Regions from separate parts of the Homo sapiens genome. Here region 2 is linked to region 1. The links come from fine-mapping of genetic effects on gene expression. A gene starts in region 1. The other region holds a variant in brackets. All regions are shown on one strand. Distances are between the middles of the regions.

Region 1 (5,333 bases):
AGGAGGAGAGATTACTGAGTAAAGCACTACCAAGTTTCTATCAATAATTCAACAAACAGGCACTTAAGATGCACCTCAGATGTGTACTACCCAAGTGTGAGCCCTCCCTGCCTCCAAGAGCTGACAGTCTAGTTGAAAAGATGCGACCTAAAGTAACAAGTGACCATGTGCTAAAAATAAATAGCATAGGCCGGGCGCGGTGGCTCACGCCTGTAATCCCAGCACTTTGGGAGGCCGAGGTGGGTGGATCACGAGGTCAGGGGTTCGAGACCAGCCTGCCCAACAAGGAGAAACCCTGTCTCTACTAAAAATACCAAAATAAGCCAAGCGTGGTAGTGTGCGCCTGTAATCCCAGCTACTCAGGAAGCTGAGGCAGGAGAATCGCTTGAACCGGGGAGGCAGAGGTTGCAGTGAGCAGAAATCATGTCACTACACTCCAGCCTGGGTGACAGGGCGAGACGCTGTCTCAAAAAAAAATAAATAGGCTAGGTGCAGTGGCTCACACCTGTAATCCCAGCACTTTGGGAGGCCGAGGTGGGTGGATTATCTGAGGTCAGGAGTTCGAGACCAGCCTGGTCAACATGGTGAAACCCCATCTCTACTAAAAATACAAAAATTATTAGCTGGGCATGGTGGCCAGCACCTGTAATCCCAGCTAGTAGGGAGGCTGAGGCAGGAGAATCACTTGAACCTGGGAGGCGGAGATTGCTGTGACCCTAGATCGCGCCATTGCACTCCAGCCTGGGCAACAGGGCAAGACTCCATCTCAAAATAAATAAATAAATAAAACAAATAGCATAGATAATATGTTTCCTAAATGTTTTGACAAAGGAGATTCTTACTGCTGTGGGTTAGGCTGGTCAGGAACTAGCTTTAAGGCAGAAGAAAGAGATAAGCTGGGACTGGCAGGGTGGCAGGATTCTGAAAGGGATGGAGGAGGGTCCCACAGGCGGCCTTTAAATTTATGAAATACTGTATTTTATTTATTTATTTATTATTATCATACTTTAAGTTTTAGGGTACATGTGTACAATGTGCAGGTTAGTTACATACGTATACATGTGCCATGCTGGTGCGCTGCACCCACTAACTCGTCATCTAGCATTAGGTATATCTCCCAATGCTATCCCTTCCCCCGAAATACTGTATTTTCATGTCCACACTCATTTCTTTTTATTCTTAAAAGAATCCTGGGGGCGGCACGGTGCGGTGGCTCATGCCTATAATCTCAGCACTTTCAGAGATCAAGTTGGAAGAAAGGATCACTTGAGCCCAGGAGTTCAAGACCAGCCTAGGCAATATAGTGAGACCCCATCTCTAACAGAAAAAAAACTTTTTTTATTTAGCCAGGCATGGTGATGTGCAGCTGTGGTTGATCCCAGTTACTCAGGAGGCTGAGGCGGGAGGACTGAGGAGGCTGAGGCGGGAGGATTGAGGAGTCTTGAGCCAGGAAGGTTGAGGCTGCAGTGAGACATGACTGTGCCTCTGCACTCCAGCCTGGGCGACAGAGTGAGGGGAGGGCAGGGAAAGAACACGGGGCGATAATAAGCCCAACATGCCCCTAGTTTACAGATGAGAAAAGTGAAGATGAGAAGGCTTGACCAGTTGATACAATAAGCAATGAAATCTGAGTGGTTTTTTTTCTTCTAACCCAGCAATCGAGGCTAGTGTGGAAGAGAATGAGAAAAATAATTCAACCAGAGCAGAGGACCTGTGAGGGACATTAAAAGATAGGTTAGGTCAGACTGGTCCCAAATGCCAAACTAAAGACTTTGAACTTCATCCTTTCAAGCAAGAGAAGGATTTCCAGCATTTCGAGAATAAGGGAGAAAGAAACTAAATGCCTACAGACTGGTTAGTTAGCTAGGGACAGGCACTGCAATAGCCCAGGTGAGAGATAATAAAGGTATGAATTTAAAAATACACATAACAAATTAGATTTTAACATTGGTTTTAAACTAAAATCCCCAAGAAAACCACTGAAAAACCTTGTCTCTTTTGTAAATCTGTTTCAGGAAGAAAAACCTCTAACCAACAAATTTCAGGAACATTTACTGAGAGCCCAAAGGGAGTAATAATTGACCAACAATCTAACATCATCAGAGATTTTAAACAGGCCTGATAAATTAAAACTAGAATTGTCAACAATATTGCAGGAATCTCAAGTTCACAAAGTTCAGGCTACCTAAACAAGGAATACTTATATGCAACTCATTGAACATTTTACTAAGTTTTCCAAAAATTTCTTGATTTTCCATTCAGAGGAGTTTCAGTTGGTCAACCAAAGGCCGACTTATTTCCACATGAAAGCCCTGATCCTGCTCACAGCACAGGATCTTGTAAAGGGCAAGGACCCAATAAACATTTGCAGAATAAATGAGGCCAGGCCTACGGTGCAGGAACTCCCTCCATCACAGGCGACTCGAATGCTAGTCTATTTCGAATAAAGATCTCAACATCCCGGAATCAAGTCTGGAAGAAAAACCCTCCGGTTAGCGTTCGCCAGCCTTCCCAGGTCGGGCCTCCTGCAAGGCCCTCAAGGCGCTGTTTTCCCAAAGTAACGCCACCGTGCCACTTCCCAAAGATGACAACCTCTCAGCTCCCTGCCATGTTACCCTCTCTCCAGCCAGATCCAGGAGTCGCGGACGCCTGGGGAAGTCTCCCAGCGGCCCGATCCGCGTCAGAGGAAGCGTTTTCGGGAGAGGGGGCTGCCGCCACGACAAGCGCCTTCCCGCGCCCTACTCACCGTGGCCGGGCGGCCGTGCTCGGGGCCGTCAGCGGCGTCCAGGCGCGGGGCCGGGGCGGCGGGCGCCGGGGCCGTGGCGGCGGGCGGCTGCCTGTGCTTCCCGGCGCGCTTGGCCTTGGCCTGGATGCAGCGCTGGTGCAGGGCGAAGGTGTGTTGGCGCTCCAGCTCCAGGCGCTCGGGCGACACGGCCTCGTAGCGGGCCTCGCAGGTGCTGTGGTGGCGCCGGCACAGCTCGATGCGCCGGCGAAGGCGCTCCATGACCGCGCTGTGCCGCGGCAGCGCGAACTCCGCCATGGGGCAGGTGGGCAGCACCATGGGCCGCGGGCTGCACGGGCCGGGCCCGGGGCCGGGCCTCTCGGGGCCGGCTGGCACTGCGGGCTTCGCTCCCCGCGGCTACCCCTCTCCGCCTCACGGCCGCGCCATGCCCCCGAGGGCAGCGGAGCGGGCTCGCGCGCGGCGGCGGGTTTTCCTCCTGCCCCGCTCGGCCCGACCCCCAGCCGGCGCTTGCTGCCTACCTCAAGCCTCGGCCTCTCCCCACCGCCCCGGCCCCATTGTTTTCCGCGCTACCGCCGCGGCCGCCATCTTAAAATTGTTTTCGGGCCTCTCGGAAGAAGGCGGGGCCTCGGTAAGAGACCTTGTGCATCACGACTGATGAGCAGGGGCCCTGGCCAATCAGAGAAGGAAGAACCGGCCGCCCGAGGGCGTGGGGACGAGCACGCAAGAGGCGCGCTCGGGCGCCAGAGCGGTATTTAAAAGGAATTCTCAAGCGAAGGGCGGAGGGAAGCCCCTGGGCGGGCCTTAATCCTGGGGGCGGAGCTAAGCGTGACTGACAGGAGCCCGTCCAAGAGGCGGCTATTGGTTTCCTGCACAGCACCCGCTGAAGGCAGGCCCTTCCGGCTACCCCGAGAAAAGGGGAATCTGGCAGGCGAGTGCGGCGCAGCTGGCCAGTCCCTGTCGCCCGCCTGGCAGTACAGAGACCTTTTTTTTAAATTATTTTTTAAATTTCGACTTTGATAAACTCTAAGTAGCCACGCTATTTTAATGTCAGCCGTTTTACTTTGACCTTATTCCTTGTATCCAGCCCCATAATTGGTCAGAATCGTCTAGTGAGCTGGTAGTTTCCTCTTGCAACATTCCGAATCACTGGTAGTTTCCACCTATTTGTAAAAGCCCGAGCAAGTTTCAAAAGTGCAGTATTACTCACTACTTAAAAAAAAAGTCCAGAAGATGTGAGCAAAAGCATGCAAGAGTGCAGCTCCATTAGAGGGAACTGGAAATGCAAAGGACGACGTTTCACCACAACCACCGCCTTCCAGGCTCAAGCGATTCTCCTGCCTCAGCCTCTCCAGTAGCTGGGATTACAGGCATGCGCCACCACGCGCGGCTAATTTTGTATTTTTAGTAGAGACGGGGTGTCTCCATGTCGGTCAGGCTGGTCTCCCACTCCTGACCTCAGGTGATCCGCCCACCTCGGCCTGCCAAAGTACCGCGATTACAGGCGTGAGCCGCCGCGCCGGACCAAAAACAGTCCTTTAGGTAAAACTGAGTTACTCAACAAAACCAAACCAAGACAAATTATGCCCCATTATTAAAACTAATAGGCAAAGGGGAGTAGAGGGACTGGAGCAATCAAACAGTGTTAGTACTAAAACTAGATAGTGTGATGCCAAAGGATATCAGGAACTCTAGATATGGGCACTCTAATTGCTAAAAGGTTAAGCAGGAGGTGGCAGGAGGCTGCACATTGAGATACACCATCAGTAGTTCAAACATTCGTTACTCTAGCTTTTTACTAGGGCTCATGAGGTTTTATTTTAAAATCAAGAGAAAACAACAATCAAATATGTCTTCATACAAACGCAGCAGAAAAATACAAATCCTAATGTTTTAAATGGAGAAAGTGGGCCACCAAGGCAAAAGTGCCATAATGCAGTCCTGCTTTTTTTTTTTTAGCATTCAAACAAATTTTACACCAGAACTAAACTATTTCTTAATAGAAAAAATAGTAACTAGGAGCACTACATTCTGTGTACATACTTTTCTTTAGTATGTAATCTAAAAATTTAATAGCACATAAAAAACTGGGCTAACTTTCAAAAATACCCCTAAAGTATTTAAGTATATGTAAAATAATGGAGTCTGATTCTGAACAAATAATTTTCTAATAAAAATTTCAAAGTTCAATGGTTCCCCTAAGTCTTAAAGAATATTATCTACAAATTATCAGTAGCATTCCCTCCTTTTCTGAGCTGCTGTCCACACTATTATACAACAGAAACTACTGCACCGCAATCACATGGGCAGGAAGAGGCAAGGGCTAGACAGAAAAGACTGCATCAAACTCACGTGGTGAGATAAAAGTCATTATTTCACTGTCCATAATAGTTTCTGCCTAGTAGTGAACTCTCACATAGTGGCCAATTATACGAAGATCAACCCACTAATTGAACATAGTCACACACACACACTGAAGGTTACTATGAAGAAATTCAGTCAAAAGCAGACACTTAACACAGGGCTTTAATGTAACACCATTTAGTAACATGACAAATTGAAAAGTGAGGAGTACTTTGTGGATAAGAAAATG
Region 2 (5,369 bases), 41 kb before region 1:
GCAGCAAGTGAGGAGCCCCCACTGTGTCGCCGGCCCCAGGACTAAGGCGGAGTGCAGGGCCAGCGAGCCCCGGGGACAGGGGTGGGAGACGGGGCAGCAGCCAGATGGGGTCAGGAGAGGAACAAGGATCCACAACCAGCCTTCAGCCGATTTTTGGGAGAAAAGCCGCTGAGGTCACCCTCTTCCCCTTCAGATTGGGGAACTCCCTCAGAGGGTGAAATTTTCACTGGCTTTATGATTCACCCCTTCTTTGAGAGCTAAACTGAGTACATGGGAAAGGTAGGGAAGGTGTTTTAAGGAGAAATGGCCGACATACCACTTGGGGTGGCAAATGGCTATTAGAAAAGAAGATCTGAGGGTCCAAGTACCCCCAGTGAGAAAGGCACTGCTGGTGCAAAATAACTACCAATGTGTGTACAACCTCTCGTCCCCTCACCGCGACTCAGGCTGGTTGCATGAGTATTTTCCTTGGCTCAATTCTCACATAGGACACTCCTGAATGATCCATTGGGAGACTCCAGGGAAACAGAAGTGGGGCTGCAGTTTCTCCACAGAACACTCTGCATCTGAGCCACTTTTCAGCATTCTCTTTTCTCTCCACCATTCTGTGTAAAAGGGTCTCACCCTGTGCTTACCACTTTGCTTTCGTTACGGGGAAGTGCTCTCTCCATCTTCGTTTTCCAAAAACAGCTCACATGTCATATTCTATTTCGTGGACCCTCAGCTTAGTCAAGTCCACTTGAATCTTTAGAAAGGATGTCTTAGTGTTATAAAGCAATCTCTTTAAGAAGTGCAAGTCATCTGACATGGGAGTGGCAGAAGTTGTCAAACCAAGTGGAATTGCTTCCTCCGGGCCGGCCTACGGCCTCCTTCCCCAAAACCTTTATGCTAAGGTTCCCTTAGGAATTCTAAGACTCTTCCTTTCCCTCCAATGGAGTAAATAATTGTTTTCCATTTGGGCTGCAGAGAGGAAGGAGAGGCAGACAGAAAGGCCAACGGTAAAGGAAAGACATCTGTGCACAACTGCACAGTGACCACGCTCCCACCATGGGCAACATACATGTTCAGAGAAAACTGCAGAAGGTGGGGAGACATAATACTCCAGGATACAGGACCCCCACATCTCTACCTTCCATATGTAGCCTGGGGTCCTGCTGCCAGGACATGGGAGGAAGGGATTCCTGGGGGCCTTGGGAGGGAGGAGGAGGAGCTGCTAGGAAGACCCTAGCTGTGTCACCAGACCTGCTATCCCATGCCTCCTGTCCCTTTTTGGCATACGCAGTCAACAGCCTGCACTTAGGGAAATAATTTTCCAGTGGCCTCCTTCTCCCCTGAAAGCTGACAAAGAGCAGAAACAAAAAAGGCTCTTAATCAAAAGGAAACCCTAGGTTTCCAATGCCACTTAATTGATTTAAACCATCACCTACCCTAATCTGTTTAAAAACCTTTTGTAAAAAAATTTAAAAATCTTTTCTATGCTACAAATTGCAAATAATTCTGCTATCTAAAGTTTCAACAGAAACTTGTCCCCAGCACTGGGGTAAGTGGAGCAGTCTTGGATAAAATCACCATGATGGCACAGATTTTTATAAGCCCGACAGTGTGGGGTTTCACTGGTGTTACTGTTGGTTTTTTGGTCGTTTGGATAGAAAACCACCTTTAGAACCCTATCCTGCTGTCCCAACACCAGGTACTGATGCCAGCAGATGGGCTGGGGCCAGCCCGATGGACCTCAACTGCTGGCCTGAGGGGCGCAGCCACAGACCCTGCCCAGGGCCAGGCCTCACCTGGAGCTTGGGCTCTACCTGCCCAGCTCCCCAGGCCATGGGCTTTTGGTCCAAAGTAGTTGCTCTTTCTTTGAATCTGAGAATAAAAATATAGGATGAATGAACACTAAAAACACTACAAATCCTTCCATTACTGAGACCCTAACAGGTCGTCCAAATCACTCATCCACTCCTCTGAAGTCCTGTTCTTCAGCAGGGAGTCGATCAGATCGGTGTGTCCAGCCACACTAGAGAGCCCACTGCCACCTGGCTGCCCGCTATAGGCAAAAGGCAGCTCCTGGCCCGCGGTCCGCACAGGGTAGGCCTGGGTGCAGTGCAGCCCCGCCCGACCGCCCATCTGTGAGGCAGGGCTCTGGCTGAAGGCCCCCAGCTCAGGCCCTGCTGGGCTCAGGCCAGGCAAGCCCTGCTGAGGGGCTGTTGGGGGTGGTGCTGGGGCAGGGGCGCTGGTCCTCTGCTGTGCACTCACTGGGGGTAGCAAGGACCCCACGGCAGCTGCTGAGCTCATGGGAGCCATGGGCCTGTTGGGCACTGCCTGGGAGAATTGCGGGCTAGACATTTTCAGGTGGGCCTGCTGCTGCATGTGGAAACTGGAGGCTGCAGTGAAGGGACTCACGTTGCTGTTCCCTGGGGTCTGGCCACTGAGGTTCGGCATTCCCTGATGCTGCCAGGAGGAATTCTGGCCTCCCATGGCTGGTGACACCCTTGGGACCGGTGGCTTTGTTAAACCAGGGTTCAGGGTCCCCTTATTGTGCTGCTGGGAGAGGCCAGAGCTTCCCAGAGAGTTCTGCCCATAGGCAGCTGAGACGGAGGTGTTCTGGCCCACGTTGGTCTGCCGTGGAATGTGGGCATGTCCATTGGTGGCCTGTGGCGGGGGCTGGGCAACTATCTGGGTTATGCCAGAAGCCATGCCATAGAGGCTGCTCTGAGGCATGTTTTGGGAGCCAGGGAACTGAGCCACACCCCGGTCCTGTTGGCCTGAGTTTGTGGGGAGAGAGGAAACTGAAGCATGTCCAGGGCCCATTGGCATCAGATTCCCAGCCTGAGGGAACACTCGAGGACAGCTGGAGTTGGATGGACCCAAGGTGTTCATGCCGGGCAC[G/C]GCAGCAGAGGACCCTACAAGACAGAGAAGAGTCTGGCAGTCAGGAGTCGACCACCACTGGGTCCCTCTGAGACTCGAGCCGCAGCACCAGAAGTCTCACGTTCACGGCACACTGGGAAGAGGGCCCCGGGGGCCATGGGGCAGAAAGCCTTCCACAGGTGGAATGGAGGCCTGGTCTCTGAAACAATGATGGGGTTCAGAAAGGCACAGAGGAAGGGCAAAGCCCCAGGGGAGAGAAAACCAGTGACCTACTTCATCTAACTTTCAAGCACCCACCAAATTTCTGCTCTGTGGGGACCCTGTGGTGGGCACCGGGGACTCTGAGGTGGACCCAACGCAAGATCCGCCTCTGGGAGGCAAAGTTAGCACATGGCACGATGGGGCGCAATGGGGCGCGATGGGGCGCGCCTGGCCAGCAGGCTGCAGGGTGCAGGCTGGAAGCCCTGGCATCTGGGAAGCCTTGGGCAAGGCTTGAGAGAGACAGTGATGAATCCACTAGGTTTAAAAGCACAGAAGTTTAGCAATTTAACAGTTTGGGGAAAAAGAGCATTCCAGGCAAGTGTGTGCAAAGGCAGAGTCAGAAAAAGGCATCTGTGTGGGGAACTTTCAGAGACTGGCCGTGGCCGGGATATGCAGACAGTGGCCAGCTGGTTAGAGATAAAATGGAAGAGCTAGTTCCGGCCAGATAGGGAAGAGCTGTGGATGGCGTGTGAAGAACGGGGTTGTGGCCGGGCGCGGTGGTTCACGCCTGTAATCCCAGCACTTTGGGAGACCGAGGCGGGCGAATCACGAGGTCAGGAGATCAAGACCATCCTGGCCAACATAGTGAAACCCTGTCTCTACTAAAAATACAAAAATTAGCCAGGCGTGGCGGCGCGCGCCCCCAGCTACTCGGGAGGCTGAGGCAGGAGAATTGCTTGAATCCGGGAGGCGGAGGCTGCAGTGAGCCGAGATCATGCCACTGCACTCCAGCCTAGGCGAAAGAGCAAGACTCTGTCTCAAACAAACAAACAAAGAACAGGGTTGTAAAGCCCAAGAGTGGCTGGACTGAGAGTGTGGCTGAGACCATGCTGGGGAGAGGCTGTTCAGTCACGGAGATGAGGGAGGGCAGACCATGTGGGAATGGGGGGTGGAGGTGCAGAACTGTGTGACAACATCTCACCAGACAATATACCATCTTATGGCACACCATTTATACTATGAAATGACAAGGTGGCCAAAGGAGGGAGGAGTCGCAGGAAATTACCAGATCTTCACTGAGTACCCACTCTGTGGCAGGTGCTGTGCTGGAGAGACAGCAGAGGGTGGAAGAGAAAGCACCCCTATGCTCAGGGAACTGCTGTCTAGGCCTCCTGGCTTAAGCAATGGACATATGACAACACCATTAACTGAATTAGGTTTTGTGGGTAGGAGAGTCATTGTTCAGGGATTGGCCGTAACTCAGTGCTTTGTTCTTCTTCCTCTCTACTAGCAACCATATAATAAAAATTGGGGCCGGGCACGGTAGCTCACACCTGTAATCCTAGCACTTTGGGAGGCCAAGGCGGGCAGATCACGAGGTCAGGTATGTGAGATCAGCCTGGCTAACATGGTGAAAGCCCATCTCTACTAAAAATACAAAAATGAGCCGGGCGTGGTGGCAGGCGCCTGTAATCCCAGCTGCTTGGGAGGCTGAGGCAGGAGAATCGCTTGAACCTAGGAGGTGGAGGTTGTAGTGAGCCAAGATCGTGCCACTGCACTGCAGCCTGGGCGACAGACCAAGACTCTGTTTCAAAACAACAACAATGAAATTGGGTTGAGGAAAAGAGGAGAGCTGAAACCGGCTATTTCATTCCCATCAATAATCCACAAAATGTCAGATGGGTCTGAAGGCAGAAAACATGGGTCAGACCCATGCTTCTGAAATGCCTGCAGATTTCAACCCCACGTTGACCCCAGGTAGCACATACATAAAACCGTACCTGGTCTCCTCCAGGACACACAGCTGTGGTCAGTCTCTCTGGGACCCTTTATAGCAAGGTCCCAAATAAGGAAAAACAGAGGTTTCTAAGACATTCTGAGAGGAGCTAGGAAGGCGGGCAGACCAGAGCTTCCTGTATCCATTCCCTGAAATCTTTGTGCATTTCTGGAGGGATGGCCTATGAAGTTCCCTGGCACATCTCAGAGGCGACAGCTAGACTCAAGTGTGCTTCCTGCCCTTTTCTGGCCAACTGTCCACTAGTGATGCTGCCATCTGTGATATTCAAGTGAGCAGACAGGAGGAGAGAAAGAAGCCAAAGGCCACGCAAGTGCATTAAGTCCTTATCTGGAAGATAGGAGTCATTTTTTGAAGACACATAAAAGCAGAAGCAAAGAACTTTCTTGAGAATTACAGAAGCTATTTCCTGCTGATAAGATGTCCTCCAACTAGAAATGATTTTGCTTCAGAAAACTGTACAGCCAGGGACCCAGCAAAGGTAGTTCTAGTGGTTTGCCTCTGTGCC

Alleles and levels. Alleles are on the strand shown, and positions count from the first base shown. SD is a standard deviation of normalised expression in the study named.
In carriers of allele G in region 2, the expression in whole blood of the gene that starts at base 3,352 in region 1 tends to be higher than with C alone (small effect, 0.32 SD a copy in GTEx).

What was found. PIP is the estimated chance that this variant, and not a neighbour inherited with it, causes the effect.
Region 2: its variant is fine-mapped to the expression of MAML1 in whole blood (TOPMed, PIP above 0.99). The same link has a PIP of 0.9 or more in breast, cerebellar hemisphere, cerebellum, gastroesophageal junction, lung and pancreas.

Annotation. Positions count from the first base shown.
Region 1 is chr5:179,730,841-179,736,173 of GRCh38, reverse strand. MAML1 (mastermind like transcriptional coactivator 1) reads right to left here and starts at 3,352. Exons shown (of 5, transcript NM_014757.5): 1 at 2,747-3,352. The coding sequence starts at 3,061. CANX (calnexin) reads right to left here. Exons shown (of 15, transcript NM_001746.4): 15 at 4,533-5,333. RefSeq lists silencers at 2,760-2,819, 3,060-3,259 and enhancers at 2,448-2,948, 3,710-3,809.
Region 2 is chr5:179,771,426-179,776,794 of GRCh38, reverse strand. MAML1 (mastermind like transcriptional coactivator 1) reads right to left here. Exons shown (of 5, transcript NM_014757.5): 5 at 1-2,900. The coding sequence ends at 1,918. Among named protein-coding and RNA genes, the nearest start is that of LTC4S, 20 kb to the left of the region's middle. RefSeq lists a silencer at 3,440-3,640. The variant G/C (reference allele first, on the strand shown) is at 2,887.